3 linked regions of the Homo sapiens genome follow. The protein of the gene in region 3 interacts with the protein of the main gene of each other region in a biochemical or structural test. Each region holds a gene or a part of one and is shown on either strand. Other genes may lie near its edges.

What was found. The genes of interacting proteins can lie anywhere in the genome.
Region 1: the proteins of RAD18 (region 3) and HLTF form a complex in vitro, tested with the Homo sapiens proteins (2 studies listed by BioGRID).
Region 2: of the proteins of RAD18 (region 3) and RFC2, one has a biochemical effect on the other in vitro, tested with the Homo sapiens proteins (one study listed by BioGRID).

Annotation. Positions count from the first base shown.
Region 1 is NC_000003.12:149,069,520-149,076,545, reverse strand, and holds part of HLTF (helicase-like transcription factor), read left to right. Parts: intron 1-498; coding exon 499-665; intron 666-2,197; coding exon 2,198-2,331; intron 2,332-3,223; coding exon 3,224-3,321; intron 3,322-4,888; coding exon 4,889-4,963; intron 4,964-5,102; coding exon 5,103-5,294; intron 5,295-7,026. UniProt on the Homo sapiens protein: Has both helicase and E3 ubiquitin ligase activities. Possesses intrinsic ATP-dependent nucleosome-remodeling activity; This activity may be required for transcriptional activation or repression of specific target promoters.
Region 2 is NC_000007.14:74,237,386-74,244,411, reverse strand, and holds part of RFC2 (replication factor C subunit 2), read left to right. Parts: intron 1-1,165; coding exon 1,166-1,266; intron 1,267-4,316; coding exon 4,317-4,474; intron 4,475-5,423; coding exon 5,424-5,489; intron 5,490-6,969; coding exon 6,970-7,026.
Region 3 is NC_000003.12:8,939,448-8,946,473, reverse strand, and holds part of RAD18 (E3 ubiquitin-protein ligase RAD18), read left to right. Parts: intron 1-4,669; coding exon 4,670-5,007; intron 5,008-6,820; coding exon 6,821-6,920; intron 6,921-7,026. UniProt on the Homo sapiens protein: E3 ubiquitin-protein ligase involved in postreplication repair of UV-damaged DNA. Postreplication repair functions in gap-filling of a daughter strand on replication of damaged DNA.

The DNA of each region.
Region 1 (7,026 bases), about 140 Mb from region 3:
TTCAGATCCTAGCTCTGCTACCTTTTAGCTTTGTGACCTTGGGCAAGTTACTTTTCTGTGCTTCAGTTTCTTCATTTGTAAAATGGGAATAATGATAGTACCTCCCAATAGAGCTGTGAGGATTTAAAAAGTCAGTCTGTGCAATGTACTTAGACCAATGCTTGGCACATAGTAAGCGCTCAATAAGGGTTGGCTATTTTTCAGAAGTTATGATGTTGAAAATTTTAGATAATTTGAATTTGCTAGTTTACATTTGACTATTTTTTAAGACATTAAGGATTTGTTAACTTCCTAATGAATATAGATTAGAAAAATAATATTAAGGAGTCATAATAATATATATTAATATTTCTGTAGTTTGTGTCTAGAAAATATATTTTTCTTATGTGCAGTGTTTAGCAGTAGCATTAAAAAATGAATGGAAATCCCAGATAAAGTATAACAAAGTTATTGTCTATTATTTATAATGTAATATTATCTGTTTATCATTTTTATTAGGTTAATAATAATGAAATGGTTGCATTACAACGAGATCCTAATAACCCTTATGATAAGAATGCAATTAAAGTAAACAATGTGAATGGAAATCAAGTTGGCCATTTAAAGAAAGAGCTTGCAGGTGCTTTGGCCTATATCATGGACAACAAATTGGCACAAATTGAAGGGTAATGTACTTTCAGAATTTAGTTTTAATAATTGTGAATTATAGTCATCTTTGAACTTGTTAGGGCTTCTTGTTAGAGCCTATAAAGGTATGCTAACAATTTCTATCACTGTACTTTTGGTACGTGTTAAATAAATGTTTTATTTCTCCTTTTACATACTTCTACTACCCCAGCCATCAAACAATTGTCCTCTCATTTTCCTATGGAATTATTACCATGGAGAAAATAGACCTTGGTTCAAATATTAGGAAGTACATTCCATTTCTCCAAACCTTTTGGTACCTAGGTTTAGGAATTTGGAAGTGTTTATTTGTTTATTTATTTATTTATTTATTTTGAGACGAAGTCTCACTCTGTTGCCCAGGCTGCAGTGCAGTTGTGTGATCTCGGCTGACTGCAACCTCCGCCTCCAGGGTTCAAGCAACTCTCCCTGCCTTAGCCTCCTGAGTAGCTACAGGTGCCTGCCACCATGCCCAATTAATTTTTGTATTTTTTAGTAGAGACAGAGATTTGCCATGTTGGCCAGGCTGTCTCGAACTCCTGACCTCAGGTGATCTGCCCGCCTCGGCCTCCCAAAATGCTGGGATTACAGGCGTGAGCCACCGTGCCCAGCCTGGAAGTGTTTGTTTATATCAGAGGTTATAAACTGGTATTCTGTGATATGATGTAGGTGAATTTCATTTTGCCCTGCAGTGTTTTAGACATTTTTTCGTTCAGTACTAATTATTGAAATAGCTAAGTCCGCATTTTATACATATTAATTTATTTTCTTAAATACAAAAAACTTATTTTTCTCTTGACAAGTGGGAAATCTGGCAATGCAGGATGAGTTGTCACTTCCATATGACAATAGTTGACTGGAACTCTCCCTTTAGCTAGGGCATATGCTCTCCCAGTTTTATCACCTGTTTCTTTTTTCTTTTTCTAAACTCTTTCAATCTTTCAGTTACCTTTTCTCTTTTAGGCATTTGTACTTGTGATCTCAATTTAAGTATCTGGAATATTTAGGATCTTGATATTCTAATTCTAATTTTTAGGATATTCATATAATCCTAGGTGAGTTTGAAGAGAAAATAAATGCTCATAATGTCTCACTTTGTTTTCTCCTTTTTCAGTTTATCAGGTTTTTCAGTTATTGAGAATAACTTAGTGAATCACAAGTTCTTGCATTTCCCATTTTCCAAGCAGAATGAGTTACTACCCTCAGTGGTTCCGTTAGCCAAACTCTACCCTTTGATTTAACTTATTTTACTTATATTACAATCTTGTTTACAGGCCATCCTTGCATTTTTAAAACTGCTTTATTCCATTTTCTCAATTTTTTCTGGCACTCTGTTTCTAAAAATCACCCTTCTGATTGTTTATGGTTCTATTTCTTTTCCTTTTTTTCTTTCAAGTCTGCCCAACTAGTTCCTTATTACTTTACTTCAATGTAAAATGTAAATGATACACTTAAAATATTGAACTAATTCTTAGTGGGGATAAAAAGTAATGCTTCTGATTTCCCTTTCTTTTTCTCCCAAATATAATAGGGTAGTTCCTTTTGGTGCAAACAATGCTTTTACCATGCCTCTGCATATGACTTTTTGGGGAAAAGAAGAAAATAGAAAAGCGGTTTCAGATCAGTTGAAGAAACATGGATTTAAATTGGGTCCTGCACCAAAAAGTAAGTTTAGGGTTTCACTTAATATTATTCTGATATTGTAAGATGCAGGGATTATGAAACATTTATTCTCTCTTGGAGTTTGTTGGCTAATTTGTGCTCAAGGCTCCAAGGTACAACTTTTTTTCAGGAGTCTTTTTGAGGAAATCTCTGATTTTTCCTTTTGCCTCTATTGAAATAGATTCACACATAAAAATATACACAGTAAGAGTGAGGGGATATTAAAAAAATTAAAGAAAAAGTATATATGCAATGAAGTCTCATATATACCCTCCCCTAATTTTCCCTAATGGTAACATCTGGAAACCCCTGACTTTAAACATTCTTTTTGATAAATTTTAGGCAAAAATAATCTTCTGATAGCGAATGAAAAGGATTGCTTGGCAAGAGTTTGTTCAAATAATGTGGAATTACTTGTTTTTTTAGTGATTTAGTATTTAGCTTTTAAAATACCTCTAAAATACAAGGCTTTTAATGCAGTTTGTTATGCACGTTTTATTTATTTATTTGTGTATATATTTTGAGACAGAGTCTTGCTCTGTCACCCAGGCTAGAGTACAGTGGCCACGATCAGTGGCTGAGTGCAACCTTGACCTCCTGGGCTCCAGCAGTCCTTCCACCTGAGCCTCCTGAGTAGCTGGGACTACAGGCGCACACCATCACGCTCTGCTAATTTTTGTATTTTTTGTAGAGACAGAATCTCACCATGTTGCCCAGGCTAGTCTCAAACTACTGGACTCAGGCAAACCACCTGCCTTGGCCTCCCAAAGTGCTTGGGTTACAGGCATGAGCCACAGCACCCAGCCCTGTTAATGCATATTTTAAAAGCTACTTAATAAAAGATAAAAACCTACTTTATTTGATGGCTTTATTCTTTTTATTTTGTAAATTATAGCTTTAGGATTCAATTTGGAAAGTGGTTGGGGCTCTGGAAGAGCTGGACCAAGCTATAGTATGCCAGTGCATGCTGCAGTACAGATGACAACTGAACAGGTGTGCTTCTCTTTTATTTTGTAATCTAAAAGTGAATTTTAAATGTTGCAGGTTTGTATTTAAAAGAACAGGATGAATATGTACGTGTGGGTATTTGTGGTCTTCAAATATATTAAGTTATAATGAAACATGTTATAGAATAAATAGAATATATATATGTTAACATTTTATATAAAAAGTACTGATAAGGAATAAATCCATACGTGAACATTTGTACCCAACATACAAAACACACACGTTCCTGTTTATGCACGGCATATTTTTGTATCTGAAATGTTTTAAATGTTCAAGTAGTAATTTTAAGAAAAAAATTGAAGCTGAGACTTAACTCCTTTCAGTAATTTTGCAAATGCAGTGCTAAAGATTTAACTCCAAATTCTTCACATTGTCTAATTTGTAATTTAGGATGAGTTATGCTGAATTTCTTTGAAAAAAAAGTATATAAAGTAATTAATGCAGATCAATTTAAAAATAACATTAAAACTTTTTTGATGTTTGTATCTACCAGTGTTAGTCCTTTTATCTACTAATTGTAGTTACCATATTTACCCTGCTTATTGTTAGAAGGACTTGAGCTTGTTTCTGGTAGATAAGCCCCCGGTTACTTCTGATTTTTTAGACCTGGCCTGATTTCTTCTGAGCTGCTGCTGTGTTCATGTGTTAATTTTCAAAAATATCTGTATCACATATATGTTGATATAAAATTGGACTAACCTAGTTTAAATAGTCAATTAAGTTAGCATAATAATAAAAGTATCCTATAGTGCATGGCAAGTTCCTTATTGCAGTAATAATAAATGGAATGTCATTGACCTGGTAGGACTGAGAAAATATTTTGAATACAACTGATAGCATCACAGAATTTTAATGGCAGAAGGAACCTTAGAGACAATCTAAATTTAGTTCATCCCTTTCATTTTATAGGAATAAGACATGGGGCCATAAAGGTCAAGTCTTGCTGAAACTTACATATAAGCTTATTTGTGATAAAACTGTGACTGAAACTCGGGACTTAAAATTCTTTTATATTCTTTTACCTCCTAACAACTAAAGCACCTGTTCATTCGCTCTTCAGTGAGTAGTGTAATTCTAGAGTTGATTTATGTGCCTTTTTGGCGTTTGACTAGTTTGTGGTTTTTAAATTTAATTTAATTTCAATTTCTTAATTTTTTGGGACAGGGTCTCACTTTCTTGCCCAGGCTGGAGTGCAGTGGCATAATCATGGTTCACTCTATCCTCTACCTACTAGGCTGAAGTGATCCTCCCATCTCAGCATCCCTAGGAGCCAGAACTACAGGCATGCACCCCCATGCCTGGCTAATTTTTTAAAAATTTTTTTGTAGAGATGGGATCTCTCACTATGTTATCCAGGCTGGTCTCAAACTCCTGAGCTCAAGTGATCCTCCCACCTTGGTCTCCCAAAGTGCTGAGATTATTGGCATGAGCCACCACTCCTGGCCCGTTTGACATTAACGCCAGTTAATTAAATGATTTCAAATCTGACTTAAATGCAAGTATTATTTTAATTAGTTTGTTTTACATTGTTTCTTGTTGCTGTTTATTGTAGCTTAAAACAGAATTTGACAAATTGTTTGAAGATTTAAAAGAAGATGATAAAACCCATGAAATGGAACCAGCTGAGGTATTGAACCAATATTTTTTATTTAAGACTACTCAGAATGTTTAAATATACTTAGAATCTACTTTTTGTTTAATCACAGGATCTGCATGTGAAAAAGGAATGGCTTAATGTATTTCGCTTTATGACTTTTTATTTATAGGCTATTGAAACACCACTGCTTCCACATCAAAAACAAGCTCTAGCTTGGATGGTGTCACGGGAAAATAGCAAAGAACTTCCACCATTCTGGGAACAGCGAAATGACTTATACTATAACACAATAACAAATTTTTCTGAGAAGGACCGACCAGAAAATGTCCATGGAGGAATTTTAGCTGATGATATGGGTTTGGTAATTATTTTTTTCTTTAGTTAATAAAATCTAATTTTGTGATTATGATTTTCTAGAAAGTAATTTTGAAGTAAAAAGAGATAGGAATATGTTGGTACCAGTTTGGGACTAGATCTTACTATCTTTGTAGAACACAGTTTTTCCTGTAGTTTTTAGTTAAAATAGTGGTATAAAGATGTGTTCCTCAGTTTTCTTTTTTTTTTTTTTGAGATGGAGTCTTGCTCTGTCACCCAGGCTGGAGTGCAGTGACGCGATCTTGGCTCACTGCAGCCTCCGCCTCCCAGGTTCAAGCAGTTCTCCTGTCTCAGACTTCCAAATAGCTGGGATTACAGGCATGTGCCACCATGCCCAGCTAATTTTTGTATTTTTAGTAGAGACAGGGTTTTACCACGTTGGCCAGGCTGGTTTTGAACTCCTGACTTCAAGTGATCCGCCCGCCTTGGCCTCCCAAAGTGCTGGGGTTACAGATGTGAGCCACCCTGCCTGGCCATGTTTCTCAATTTTCTTTGCTCTTTGAAATTCAGGGTGACCTGTCTTTCATAGGTTTTCTTTTAAAAAGTAAAGACAAAACAATGTTATGTGAAATTGTATTCCATCACAAATATTGTGTTATGCAGAGTATTAAATAGATACTTATGTGTCCTTACACTAGCAGTTTTTATATTTTTCAGTCTCAGTAACCCTTTCTACTCATAAAAATTACTGATTTCAAAGAGCTTTTGCTTTTGTGTGCTGTTATCAGTAGTTATAGTATTAGGCAGTGGTAGCTAAAGATAGCAGTACAAACTCATTGCTTGTTAACATAAATAGCATATTTTTAAAAGAAAAATAACTATGCCAAAACATTAACATTTTTGTTGCAACAACTGGCATTGTCACATTTTTGCACATCTCTGTGTTTGGCCGAATAGATGGCAGCTGAATTCTCACCTGCTTCTTCATTCAGTCTGTTCTGTTAGGTTGTTTTGGTTGAAGTATATGAAGAAAATTTGTCCTTACGACGGTATGTTGCTGTAAAGAGAGGAGTATTGTAATAGCTTTTTAGATAATTGCAGATTTCTTTGATATACTGCATCAAAATTCAATAAATATTAGTTTATTAAAGGTTAATTGTTGTAATATGGAACGCTAAATCATATCAGTGAGCTTTTTATACCCTGTTTTGTTAAAATCTATTTGTGTATCTTGCTCATTGAATGAATATTTTACCCATGTATGATTTTATAACACCAGGCATTGCTCATTTAGAAAATGTTGGTTCATTGAGTTGGGCAGACCTACTAAATGTTGATGTATTTCATATGCAATATCCAAAACTTACATTCATTAATATTACCACTGATGTTATTAGAAAATCATTTACATTTTGGGAAGGCACTATGTTCATAGTGTCACACACAACTTTTCCAACATTCTAATTTTCTATTGAAAACTCACATTTTATCATTGACAAGCTCAGTTGTTTCCTTTGTAGATGACAGCCTCACTTTGTTCATTTTCTAGAAAGTATCTTTCAGACACTCAGTCGTGATTGATAGTTGTCATTCAAGTAAAAATGGTGTCGCATGAAAAAAGTGACTAGTTGAGCTTATAACTCCCATCTTGAGTGATTTTTCTCTAGCTAACCCTCATAGTTTGATATGCAACAGAAGTAGTTAATATGTAGTTTCCATTTCACTACACAGAATATTAAAAAGATTTGTACTGAAGTAATGAGACTTAATAAAATTAA
Region 2 (7,026 bases), on a different chromosome or scaffold from region 3:
CAGTGCACACCAGCCTGGGCAACAGAGCAAGACTCTGTTTCAAAAAAAAAATTTTTTTTTTTTAATGTGGCAGTAATTCATGTTCTTTGAAGAAAATTTAGAATATATTAATAGTTTGCTGCCTTTTTATTTATTTATTTTTTTGAGGTGGAGCCTCACTCTGTTGCCCAGGCTGGAGTGCAGTGGCATGATCTTGGCTCACTGCAACCTCTGCCTCCTGGATTCAAGTGATTCTCCTGCCTCAGCCTCACGAGTAGCTGGGACTACAGACGTGCGCCACCACGCCCAGACAATTTTTTTTTTTTTTTTTTTTTTGTATTTTTAGTAGAGTTGACGTTTTGCTGTGTTGGCCAGGCTGGTCTTGAACTCCTGACCTCAAGAGAGCCACCTGCCTCGGCCTCCCAATGTGCTGGGATTACAGGCATGAGCCACTATGCCTGGCCATTAATAACTTGCTTTTTTTCTTCTCTTTTTATATACTATCAATGTTTACACAGTTGAGATCATAATATATATAATTTTTGTATCCTGGTTTTTCCTTTTAATGTTGTAGGCATTGCTCTACATTATGATAATCTGGTAAACAGGCTTTTTTGTATTTTTTAAAATTTTTTGTAGAAATAGAGGTCTTACTTTGTTGCCCAGGCTGGTCTCGAACTCCTGGTCTCAAGCGGTCCTCCCGCATCAGCCTTTTGAGATGGGAGGATTGCTTGAGCCCAGGAGTTCGAGGCTGCAGTGAGCTATGATTCCACCATTGCACTGCAGCCTGGGTGACAGCAAGAACCTGTCTCTTTAAGAAAAAAAAAAGAATAAAAAAGGAAGAAAGAAAAGTTGGCAGCTGGTGTCATGATTGTTCTCCTGAATTTGTGTCATGAAGGACTGGAGAGAACCAATTCCCACAAGTGTGATGGCAGCCCTTGTAGATCGTGGTTTTCGTGAGTTTCACTTGAGGGTTGTTCTGATGCTGTAGGTACTAAATGCTGTTTGCACAGTCTTTGAGAGAGCGGCCTGCAGGTGTTAGCATTAGAGGGATGGCCTGCGTACTTCCAATGAGACCCTCATTTAGGACATTGGATGTGTCTTATGTCCTGGGTTTTTGTATAGGGAACGATTTGTGTCACATGGTCTCTGGGTCCCACTTGCAAACTTGTGTTTTTCTTCTCAGCATGACCGACGGAGCCCAGCAAGCCTTGAGGAGAACCATGGAAATCTACTCTAAAACCACTCGCTTCGCCCTTGCTTGTAATGCTTCGGATAAGATCATCGGTGAGTGGGAGCTTTCGGTGGCTGGGGGCCACGTGGTGCTCAACTGGGCTTTTTTCTTTTTTATAGATGTGGTCTCCCTCTTCGCTCAGGCTGGAGTGCAGTGGTGCCATCACAGCTCACTGCAGCCTCAAACTCCTGTGCTCAAGTGGTCTTCCTGCCTCAGCCTCCCAGTAGCTGAGACTACAGGCCTGTGCCACCACACCTGGATTTTTTTTTTTTTTTTGAGACAAAGTCTCACTCTGTCGCCTAGGCTGGAGTGCAATGGCACGATCTCAGATCACTGCAACCTCCACCTCCAAGGTTCAAGCAATTCTTGTGCTTCAGCCTCCTGCGTAGCTGGGATTACAGGCTCGCACAACCACACCCAGCTAATTTTTTTTTTTTTTTTTTTTTTTTAAGAGATGGGGTTTCACCATGTTGGCCAGGCTGGTCTCAAACGTCTGACCTCGTGATCGCCTGCCTCGGCCTCCCAAAGTGCTGGAATTACAGATGTGAGCCACTGCACCTGGCCTCGCCTTGGCTCTTTAGCGCTGGAAGAGTAGGGATTTTTTTATTGTGTAGCATGGGCCAAGCACTATATAATCAAGTTTTTAAATTTATATTTTTTTAATTGACAAGGAGAAATTGTATATATTATGCACATGTTTCCCATTGTAATCAACTTTTAAATTTAATCTTACATAATCCTATGAGGAGGTATTATTCGCTTCAGTTTAGAGATGAGAAAACTGGAGCTTATCCTGATGTTTAGGATCTAAGGAAAAAAGAGAAAGAAAACGAGCTTGGAGAGGTTGAGTAGTTTCCCCAAAGTCAGAGCAAGTGCAAGAGCAGCTGGGATTGGAGCCCCAGTTCTATCACCCTCTTGCACTCTTGGAGGCACAAGGATGTTGTTGATGTCCCCTGCACGGTGTCACGATCACAGTCGCTCTCCAGATACCTTCTTGTGCTATTCATGTGCTCTGAGTACTTGGTATAGGCAGTATCTGTACATTGGAATTTGTTGCCTCCGGGAAGCTCCTCTCTCAAATCCTGCAGTCCGTCTTTTCTCTAACCTTACTGTTTGCCCTTCCACCTCCCTCCCTGCAGCCTGTCTGCTTCTGCATGGGTTTGTCCCGCCCCAGGTCCCAAGAGTGCTCTAGTCTGTCAACTTCCTGCTGGTTTCACATCCTTCTCTTTCTTTTTTTTGTAGAGAGAGTCTCGCTCTGTCGCCCAGGCTGGAGTGCAGTGTTGCGATTTCAGCTCACTGCTATCTCCGCTGCCTGGATTCAAGTGATTTTCCTACCTCAGCCTCCTCAGTAGCTGGGATTACAGGCATGTGCCACCATGCCAGGCTAATTTTTGTATTTTTCTTAGAGACGAGGTTTCACCATGTTGCCCAGGCTGGTCTAGAACGCCTGGCCTCAAGTGGTCTGCCCACCTCGGCCTCGCAAAGTGCTGGGATTATAGGCGTGAGCCACCACGGCTGGCCCATCCTTCTCTTTCTGACACAGGCTGCCTGCACAGCCCAGCTGTCCTCTTTCCTCATTTTTCATTGCTCTCTCAGCCGCTTTCTTTGCCTCACTTCTGCCCTGCTGAACCCCAACCATATGAGCTCATCCATCTGACAACCCCCTTGCCACCCAGGCCGCTGTTGCCGACGAGCGCATTACCAAATATGGCACCCACAAAGTCATGGCTACCAGCCCTGGTGGGGCTCTCAGCAGTGTCAAGAATCCTTTGCATTCTTTTCCCTTCCCAAAATCGCACTGATTTGTGCATTGATTCATTAACCCATTCACCGAACGCTTAACTCTGGTTCTTAGTAGCCGCCAGGCACCATGCTAGTGGAGAGCTCGTGGAGTTTAATGAGAAGTATTCTCCACTTTGCAGATGCCAGCAATGAAATGGAGAAAAATGCATTCCTAGGTCTTGATTTGGCAGGGCACAGTGGCTCATGCCTGTAATCCCAGCACTTTGGGAGGCCGAGGCAGGTGGATCCCCTAAGGTCTGGAGTTCGAGACCAACCTGGCCAACATGGTGAAACCCCATTTCTACTAAAAATACAAAAATTAGCCGGGTGTGATAGCGTGCGCCTGTAATCCCAGCTACTCAGGAGGCTGAGACAGGAGAATCACTTGAACCTGGGAGGTGGAGGTTGCAGTGAGCCTAGATCACACCACTGCACTCCAGCCTGGGCAACAGAGAGACTTGGTCTCAGTAAAAAAAAGAAAGAAAGAAACTGGCCAGGCATGGTGGCTCACACCTGTAATCCCTGCACTTTGGGAGGCTGAGGCAGGAAGACTACTTGAGGCCAGGAGTTCGAGAGCAGCCTGGGCAACAGCAAAACCCTGTCTATGAAAAAAAAAGAAAGAAACTGGGTTGGCCCATTCAGATTGAATTGTCATGTGCCCAGAAGGGCCAACATCCAGCACACACCAATTCCAGAGTCCACCTGGGCCAGGGCTGACTCATCTAACAGCTTGTGGCAGGCACATGGATGTGTTTCTACTGGAGGATCATTTCCCCGTCTGGAAGCCGTGGCTAGCCAAGGCCATGTGGGCAGTGCCAACTGAGGCCTCTGTCATTGCTTATTGGTTGACACCTTGACATATCACCCTGTGTTTACCAAGTCTCTCTCTCTCTCTTTTTTTTTTTTTTTTTTTTGGAGACACAGCCTCGCTCTGTTGTCCAGGCTGGAGTGCAGTAGTGTGATCTTGGCTCACTTCAGCCTCCAACTCTCGTGCTCAAGCGAGTCTCTTGCCTTAGCCTCCTGAGTAGCTAGGATTACAGACGTGCGACACCACACCCAGCTAATTTTTGTATTTTTAGTAGAGATGGGGTTTCACCATGTTGTCCAGGCTGGTCTCAAACTCCTGTCCTCAAGTGATCCTCCCGCCTCAGCCTCCCAAAGTGCTGGGATTCAGGCGTGAGCCCTCGTGTCCGGCCTACCAAGTCTCTATTGAGTGCCTGGGGCTGTGTGGATTGTGCAGCTGCAGCCTTATGACCAAAGAGCTAGCAGGATGATGCCGGCCTCTGCAGGGAAGCCTCACTACTGTCCCGTCTCTGTTCAGAGCCCATTCAGTCCCGCTGTGCAGTCCTCCGGTACACAAAGCTGACCGACGCCCAGATCCTCACCAGGCTGATGAATGTTATCGAGAAGGAGAGGGTACCCTACACTGATGACGGCCTAGAAGCCATCATCTTCACGGCCCAGGGAGACATGAGGCAGGTATGTGGGCTGCTACCATTCAGGCGTGGGCATCCTGTGCCTGCCATGCCCCTTCCATGGGGAAGGGGAGGGAAGTGACAGCTGCACAAGGTACAACAAGAGAAAGAGACAGAGACCTGGCACCCTCCTGGGACAGTGGGCTGTCTAGCTCGGACTCCAAGAAGAGAGGCAGGGAAGGGCAGAGCTTTAAAAGTCACCCCGGAGGCTGAGGCAGGAGGATCACCTGAGGTCAGGAGTTCAAGACCAGCCTGGCCAACATGGTGAAATCCCATCTCTACTAAAAAAAATTAAAAAATTAGCCAGGCATGGCCAGGCACAGTGGCTCACGCCTATAATCCCAACACTTTGGAAGGCCAAGGCGGGTGGATCACGAGGTCAGGAGTTCATGACCAGCCTGGTTAACATGGTGAAACCTCATCTCTACTAAAAATACAAAAAATTAGCCAGGCGTGGTGGTGGGCGCCTGTAGTCTCAGCTACTCGTGAGGCTGAGGCAAGAGAATGGCATTAACCTGGGAGGCGGACCTTGCAGTGAGCTGAGATAGCACCACTGCACTCCAGCCTGGGCGACAGAGCGAGACTCTGTCTCAAAAAAAAAAGCTGGGCATGGTGGTGGGTGCCTGTAATCCCAGCTACTCAGGAGGCCGAGGCAGAAGAATCGCTTGAACCTGGGATACGGAGATTGCAGTGACTCGAGATTGTGCCACTACACTCCATGCTGGGTGACAGAGTGAGACTCTGTCTCAAAAAAAAAAAAAAAAAAAAAAAGTCACCCTTGGCCCGGTGCGGTGGCTCATGCCTGTAATCCCAGCACTTGGGAGGCGGAGGTGGGAGAATCGCTTAAGCCCAGGAGTTCGAGACCAGCCTGGGCAACATAGCGAGACTCCTGTCTCTACTCAAAAAGAAATAAATATAAAAATCATCCTTGACATGTGTTTGCTCCTGAACAGGCGCTGAACAACCTGCAGTCCACCTTCTCAGGATTTGGCTTCATTAACAGTGAGAACGTGTTCAAGGTACAAGCGCTAGTGTGGGTGGTACTGTCAGCAGAAGCCGTGCTTCCCTGTGGGGGCCAGTGGGGCTGAAGGGCTGGGCTGGCAGTGGGGACGGACATCTAGCTGCTCTTGTGGGTGCCAGGGAGCCCACCCTGCTCCCGTCTGTCCTCTCCCTATTGCTGCTTTGCTGCACAAGCTGGAGAGTTTCGGGGGACCTGGAACGTCACTTGTGTGTGGTAGGTGAGGGAGGACCACGGATGCATCAGACCCAGGGTCGAGCAATTTCTGACGTGTCTTATTTGATCCCAGCGACTTCCCTGCACAGAGGTTCTCACCATCACATTGTGGGTGATGACGTGGGCCCAGGGGATCCCCTGGCCCCTAAAGGGCAGGCAGGAGCACTGTGCTGTTCCCCAGTAGCCTTCAGACCCCACACCCTGGGTTTTTTCTGCAATGCTGTGCCCTGCTCCCCACTTCTGCCCCTGGAGGGTGGGTAGTAACCCTCAAAGCCAGGCTGAGGAAAAGGTTTCTCACTTACTCTCCCATGTCAGCAAAACATTTTTCTCTTGGGAATTCTTTTGAAAACTGCTTCCGCATCCTGATAACTCCGCGTCTAAATGCCATTTGAGAGATTCACTTCCCCCTTATTTGGGGGAAGAAACTGGGAAGGGCTGTCCAAGCTTTCAGCCTATAGCTGTTTCTTACCAGGTTTGTGGACAACAGACAAGCGATTTTTGAAGCATCTGGGTAGATCTGGGCAGTGAATGCATTTTCGAGGCCACTTAGGAAGGGGAGGCCCGCTCAGAAACAGGGGTGATGGTTCGGGCCCTGTTTTGTCTTGGAGGGTCACTGAGGGCTCAGGAAACCATGGCTTCCACCGGGAAAAGGCAAGGGCAGGTGTGGGTGACCTCTGGAGCCATCAGGAGGCTTTCATTGGGAAGATGTAGGGGTCGACATTGTACCAGAGGCAGAGCCTCATGCCACTGCGGAGAATGCTGCAGGGAGGACGGAGTCCCCAGCACCATGCACCTGCCTGCTGGAGTAGCCTGACCCCTTGTTTAGGGTGTCAGGCTGAGGCTGGGGGACCTTTTGTAGGGAAGGCCAGTTCCTACTCCGGGGTGGAGGTGGGAATTGGCCCAAAAGACCTCCCAGTTCTAAAGTGAATTCCAAGTGGTTCTGGGCAACTGACCCCCCAAGTGATCTAAGACAGATGACTTGTGACTTTAAAGCTGTCCCCAAGTGAGCATCCTTCACAGGCCCTTGGTTGCTCTCTTGTTCATCTGTCTTATGTTTGGGAAATTTATCTTCCTGGTGCCGGAAGCACTTCTCTTTGATGGTGAGAGGAGCATTCCCCAAACTCATCCTGGTTGCTGGAGAATTTGATGAAAACAACAGGTTGAGAAGTTTTACCCATAGATTGCCTGGAAGTCGGTCTGTTGGGGCCTCCCCGCTCACATTGTCCCTTCTAGCCCCTGACCGCCTTTCCTTTCCCTTTGGCCAGGTCTGTGACGAGCCCCACCCACTGCTGGTAAAGGAGATGATCCAGCACTGTGTGAAT
Region 3 (7,026 bases):
GATAGTGGTCAGGTGCCCCTGTAGTTAAGTGTAATCATGTGTTGCTTAACAGGGATGTGTTCTGAGAAATGTGTCATTAGGCAATTTGGTTGCTGTGTGAACATCATACGGTGTACTTACACAAACCAACATGGTATAGCCTACTACACTCCTATTCTATATGGCAGGGCCTATTGCTCCTTGGTAACAAAACCTGTACAGCATGTTACTATAGCTAATACGGTAGGCAGTTGCAACACAATGGTACCTATTAGTGTATCTAAACATAGAAAAAGTACAGGGAAAATATGGTATAAAAGATAAAAAATGGTACATCTTTATAGGGCATTTACTATGAATGGAGCTTTCAGGACTGAAAGTTACTCTTGATGAGTCAATGAGTGAGTGATAAGTGAATGTGAAGGCCTAAGGCCCTTACCATACACTACTGTAGACTTTATAAACACTGTACACTTAGACTACACACTAAATTTATAAAAAAGTTTCTTCAATAATTAACCTTACTGTAACTTTTACACTTTGTAAACTTTTATATTTTTTTAACTTTTTGACTCTTTTGTAATAACACTTAGCTTAAAACACAAACACATCGTATAGCTGTATAAGCATCTTTCTTTATATCCTTATTCTGTGAGGTTTTTTCTGTTTTTAAAAATTGTTATTATTTTTTCCTTTTTAAACTTTTTCTTAAAAATGAAGATGGAGGCCGGGCTTGGTGGCTGACGCCTGTAATCCCAGCACTTTCGGAGGCCGAGGTGGGTGGATCACGAGGTCAGGAGATCGAGACCATCCTGGCCAACATGGTGAAACCCTGTCTCTACTAAAAATACAAAAATTAGCTGGGCATGGTGGCACACACCTGTAATCCCAGCTACTTGGGAGGCTGAGGCAGGAGAATCGCTTGAACCAGGGAGTTGGAGGTTGCAGTGAGCCGAGATCACGCCACTGCACTCCAGCCTGGCGACAGAGTAAGACTCCGTCTCAAAAAAAAAAAAAAAAAAAAAAGAAGATGGAAACACACACATTAGCCTAGGCCCACACAGGGTTAGGATTATCAAGATGTCACTTAGCAATGGGAATTTTTCAGCTCCATTATCGTCTAATGAAACCACCACTGTGTATTTGGTCTCTTGTTGAACAAAGCATGTTGGAACATTCTATGAGGTACCTTATGTTGCTTTTAAAAATATAAACAGATTTCTTTCAATAGAATTACACATTTCTTTATTGGTTTGCATTCTAAAAACGATCAAATTTAGTACAGTTGTCTCTCAGTAAAGGGGATTGGTCCCAGGACCCCTGAGAATACCAAAATCTGTGGATGCTGAAGTCCCTGACATAAAATGGCATAGTATTTGCATATGCACATCCTCCCTTATACTTTAAATCACCTCTAGGTTACTTATAGTCCTAATACAATGCTATATAAATCGTTGTCATACTGTGTTTTTAAAATTTATATTATTTTTCATTGTTGTATTGTTACTTTTATTATTTTTTGAACATTTTTGCTCTGTGATTAGTTGAATCCACAGATGCAGAGCTGGTGGATGGGAAGGGCCGACTACAGTTTATTGTTTAGCCAAATGGTTCTAGACTGCTGTTTACATGTTTCTGATCAGAACAAGCATTGCAGGACTTTAGTTACAGAAGTCCATGGAATTGATTGCATAGATTTAATGGCTGCCCATGTCTACCCAAAGGCCTATTTTGACTCTTGATTCTTAGCCCCATTCTGAAGAGGTAAGGTTATTGTATAGTTAACAGATGGACAAGACTTTTCCTTCCTTCCTTCCTTCCTCCCTCCCTCCCTCCCTCTCTGCTTTCCTTTCTTCCTCCCTCCTTTCCTTTCTCCCTCCCTCCTCCTTTCTCCTTCCCCTCTCTATTCCTCCCTCCCCCGTCTATTCCTCCCTCCCTTTCCTTCCCTTCCTCCCTTTCCTCTCTTCTTCTTGCTCTGTTGCCCAGACTGCAGTGCAGTGGCATGATCATGGTTCACTGTAACCTCGAACTCTTGGGCTCAAGGGATCCTCCTGCCTCTGCCTCCCAATTAGCTAGGACTATGGGTATGTGCCACCATGTCCACACTGAAGAAATAAACAAAGCTTCCTTAAATATGTGGTAGAATTTACCAGTGAAGCCATCTGGGCTTGGAGTTTTCTTTGTGGAAAAGTTTTAAATTATAGCTTCTGTTTCTTTAACAGATAATAAGGGCTCTTCAGGTTTTCTGTTTCTTTGTCAGTTTTGATGAATAGTGCTTTTCAAAGAATTTGTCCATTTTATCTAAAATTTAAAATTTGTTGTTTTAAAGTGTTCATAATATCCTCTAATTATCTTCTTTATAGGATTTGTAACGAGGTCTTCTTTTAATTCTTTGTTTTGGTAATTTGTATTTTCTCTCATTTATTTCTTGTTCAGTCTTAGTAGGGATTAACAGTTTTGTTAATTTTTTCAAAGAACCAATGTTTGGCTTTGCTTGTTTTCTCTTGTTATCTCTTCTATTTCACTAGTATCTGTTATTAGTTTCTCTCTTCTTTGGGTTTAGTTTGCTGTTCATTTCCTAACCTTTTAAGTTGGAAGCTTAGAGTGGTGGTTTTTACTTTTTCTATTTTCAATAATTTTCCCTCCAGGGACAGTTTTGGCAACCCTTCATGCTATCGTTCAGTTTAGAATATTTTTCTAGTTTTCATTGTGATTTGACATGCGGGGTTATTTAGAAGTGTGGTGCTTTATTTCTTAACATTTGGAGATTTTCTAGTTATTTTTCTGTTGTTGCGTTTCATGTAAATTCGGTAGTGGTGGAATCTATGGGTTGATTTTTTTTTTCTATCAGATTTGAAAATTCTCAGCCATTGGTTTTTCTAGTATTGCTGATTTCCCATTCTTTCTTTCTGTTCCTTCTGGGCTTTTAATTATGCCCAATATCTCATACTTTTTTGTGTTTGTCTTTTTCATTCATTTTTCTCTCTGTGCTTGGTTTGGATATTTTCTATTGACCTGCCTTCAAGTTTGTATTGTGTGTTGTTATACTCATCCAATTTAGATATGGTATTTTGCAGTTGTAGAATGTTCATTTTATTCTTTTTTATGGATTTTATTTCTCATAATACACTATCTTTTTATCCCTTTTCTTTTTTTTTCTTTAACATGTTTATCATAGTTTGAAGTCCTTACCTAGAGATGCTATTCTTTGGATTACCTCTGGGTCTGCTTCTATTGAATATTTTATCTCTTGATTAGTGGCTACTTTTTCTTGCTTCTTTGCATGTTCAATAATTTTAAAATATGTGCTGAACATTGTGGTTGAAACGTTGTAGAAGCTGTGAATTGTCTTCTTTTGAAAGATGTCACATTTTGTTCTAAGAGGCAGTTAAATTATCAGCTCTTCATCTTTGTTCTGTCAAGGCCTGGTATAATGTTTTCTTAGGTTAGGTCTGTTTGAGCTTTGTTTATATTTCTTCAGTGTGGTCCATTTTTCTAAGGTGTGGTCTTTGTGGGGTGTCACTTGAATGTCCATGATCTTACCAAGATTTCTCAGCTTTGGCTGGGCTCCAATGCGAACAACTAACTTTCCAGCACTGACGTTTGGGATTTTAATTTACCAGTATCAGCTTCCTAGTGGGTCTCCTGTGTTTTTGTCTAATCATGTGCAGCCCTGGAAATGAGCAGGAATGGATGTGAATTTCTAAGCAGACTGGTGGGGTTCCCTTTCAGTAGCTACCACGTGTCAAAGCACTCTGACCCCTCAATCCTGGCCAGTTTTGTTCAGAACTCTGATCTCTTATTTTCTCTAACAAGTAAGATCAATGTTTCCTGTTTAGACTTCACTTTAGTACCCATTCCTAGAAAATGCTCCCAGGGTAAAGTAAGTCTTGGGGGAAATGTTGGACTACTTCATGTTTTCTTCTTTTTCAGGGATTGCAGCCTTGTGTTGATTTCAGTCCAGTGCCTACAAAGAGTTGTTTTTTATGCAAGTTAGGCCATTCTTACATTGCTATAAAGTAAACTTGAGGCTGGGTAATTTACAAAGAAAAGAGGTTTAATTGGCTCATGGTTCTGCAGCTGTACAAGCCATCTGCTCGGCTTCTAGTGAGGTCTTGGGCTGCTTACAGTCACAGTGGAAAACAAAAGACGGGCAGCATGTCATGTGGTGAGAGTGGGAGCAAGAGAGACAGAGTGGGAGGTGCCACACCCTTTTAAAACAGATCTCATGAGAACTCACTCACTGTTACAAGGACAGCACTAAGGGAATGGTGCTAAACCATTCATGAGAAATTCGCCCTCATGATCCAGTCACCTTCCACCAGGTCCCACCTCCAACACTGGGAATCACATTTCAGTGTGAGATTTGGTGGAGACGACATCCAGACTATATCAGTATATTTTGTTCGGATTTTAAAGTTACTTATGGTTGGAGATTAGGTCTCATATAAGCTGTTCTCTGTGGCCTAAAGCTGATTTCCTTTCATTTTGTTTTATTGACACATTAACTGCCTTTTACGTTAGATTTATTGCTTTGAGTTATACTAGAAGAAACTTTGGTTTGGTTGTCATTATAGTATAGGTCCTGTATTTCAGAAAACAAGGTTAATTGGGAAAACAGCTTATGTCAGTTAATTTATGATGTAAAATTGGATCTCTTAATTGTCTGTTGTGTTCTTTGTGCTTCAAGGAATCATCTGCTGCAGTTTGCTTTAGAGTCACCAGCCAAATCTCCTGCTTCTTCCTCTTCAAAGAATCTTGCTGTCAAAGTATATACTCCTGTAGCCTCCAGACAGTCTTTAAAGCAGGGGAGCAGGTTAATGGATAATTTCTTGATCAGAGAAATGAGTGGTTCTACATCAGAGTTGTTGATAAAAGAAAATAAAAGCAAATTCAGCCCTCAAAAAGAGGCGAGCCCTGCTGCAAAGACCAAAGAGACACGTTCTGTAGAAGAGATCGCTCCAGATCCCTCAGAGGCTAAGCGTCCTGAGCCACCCTCGACATCCACTTTGAAACAAGTTACTAAAGGTAGGAAGTTATTTTCATATGTGGAAATATGGACATCTTTTCATCCACATGACATAAGAATAAATAGGCAGCATCTTTGAGGGGGAAGGAATGGTAAAGGACAAACCAGATTTTACCATATCACAAACCTCAGACATTGTTGTAGATATGTTTGTTCTCTTTCTCTCTCAGAAACAGGAATTCAGGCTGACTGCTACAAAAAGGAAACAATTTTAATTAGTTCAGCCTTCAAGTATGGCAGTAGCTTTCTGTTTTCAGCTTTTAATCTTTCTTCCCCTCATTCAACATATCAGTTCCCATTTAATCTTGAAAAGCTCTTTTTATCTTATTTTACCACCACTTGAATGCCTCCTCACTGTTCTGCCTGCCATATAAAGCCTGTGACAATTTGAGGCCTAACCTAGTCATCCCGCCTTATTGCTCACCTCTCTGTCTCAGAAGTCCTGCTCTAGCCTCCCCACTGTTCCTCCAGTACACTGAGGAATTGGCAAACTACAACTGGCAGATCTAATCTGGCTTGCCACCTGTTTTTGTAAATAAAAGTTCACATACCCACCCTATTCTCTGTGACTGCTTTCATTCTACAGTGGCAGAGTTGCATGGTTGTGACAGAGGCCATAGGATCCGTAAAGTCTAAATTCTACCTGGCCCTTCACTAAGAATGTTTGCCGGCCCCTGTTCTATACCTTTCCAGACTCTATCCAGATCCTCACTATTCATTTGTTATGTTAGAAAACACTGTCTCACATCACAAAAGTGCTATAGCACTTGTTTTCTGGACTGTTTTGTATCCCATTTGCTTAACTGTTTGATGAATATGTCAGCTTGTTTAACTTTTTGTTTCTGTATCTTCTTTCCAGTGAAGTTTAGAGCACCTTTTAGGCAGAAACTCTTAGACATCTTTGGTATACCCATACCACACGTAGTGCAGAGATGTGAGTGTGTATTAAACTTAGATTGAAATTAGTTTATTAGTACTTAACGTGTTTACATCTTTTAAAGATATATAAATTTCACTTATATTTTCTACTATGTCTATCCTTAGTCTTTTTACCAATTGACAGTTCTTATTGTAGTATTTTTTAGCTTGATGGTTAACTGTTTTTCCCCTAGCGGAACCTTTTTTCCCAAATGAAATTTTACGATAAACCATAACGTATAAAATAGATAAAACAGATTGTTCTGTTCCACCTGACCTCCTTCTGCCTATTATCCATGGTGGTCTGTAGGCCCCGAGATACCCCCACAGATCCCTGCAACTTTATGAAATAGTTTGAGAATGACTGTGTTCCTTAATTTTAACATTATATATGGAATCATCAGTGAGAGCTAAATTAACAAATTTGTAACCATTGACAAAATTGAACTCAATAAATTATTAAACTACCTTTCCTTCACTCGGCCCTTGGGCCAGGTGTGTCTTACTTAAGTCGTTACTATTGCTTCTGGGCTAAACATGGATAGCTCCTAAGGGTTGGGAAAATTTAAGATGAGTTCTATAGTTTGGTCATACCTTGGTAGAAAAGATGTAACCGAAACATTTTTAATAAATGAACTTTCAAGCTTATTTGCAGTCTCTTTCTCTGGGACCAGGACTTCAATTTTGTGACTTCCCACAATTTAGCCATTACCCAGTAACCAGTCTGTCCCACTCCTGTTGTCCCGATGGGCCATTCTTTTTCTTTTCTGCTTTTCTAAGTGCATGTTAAGTTGGGATTCTTTTTTACTTTACTTGCTGAAAAGATGCCAGTTTACATACTTTTGCCCCTTCTACAATTAATAAAGTCTCTCTTTTTCTTTTTAAAAAATACAGTGGATTGTCCTGTTTGCGGGGTTAACATTCCAGAAAGTCACATTAATAAGCATTTAGACAGCTGTTTATCACGCGAAGAGAAGAAGGAAAGCCTCAGAAGGTAAGGAAGTTGAGCAGAACCATTGAGCTACTTTAGCTGGGTGCCTCTTGTGCTTACTTGGGGGAAAATTACAGTATTCCTTTTATCCTGGTGACCGTATTTCCTG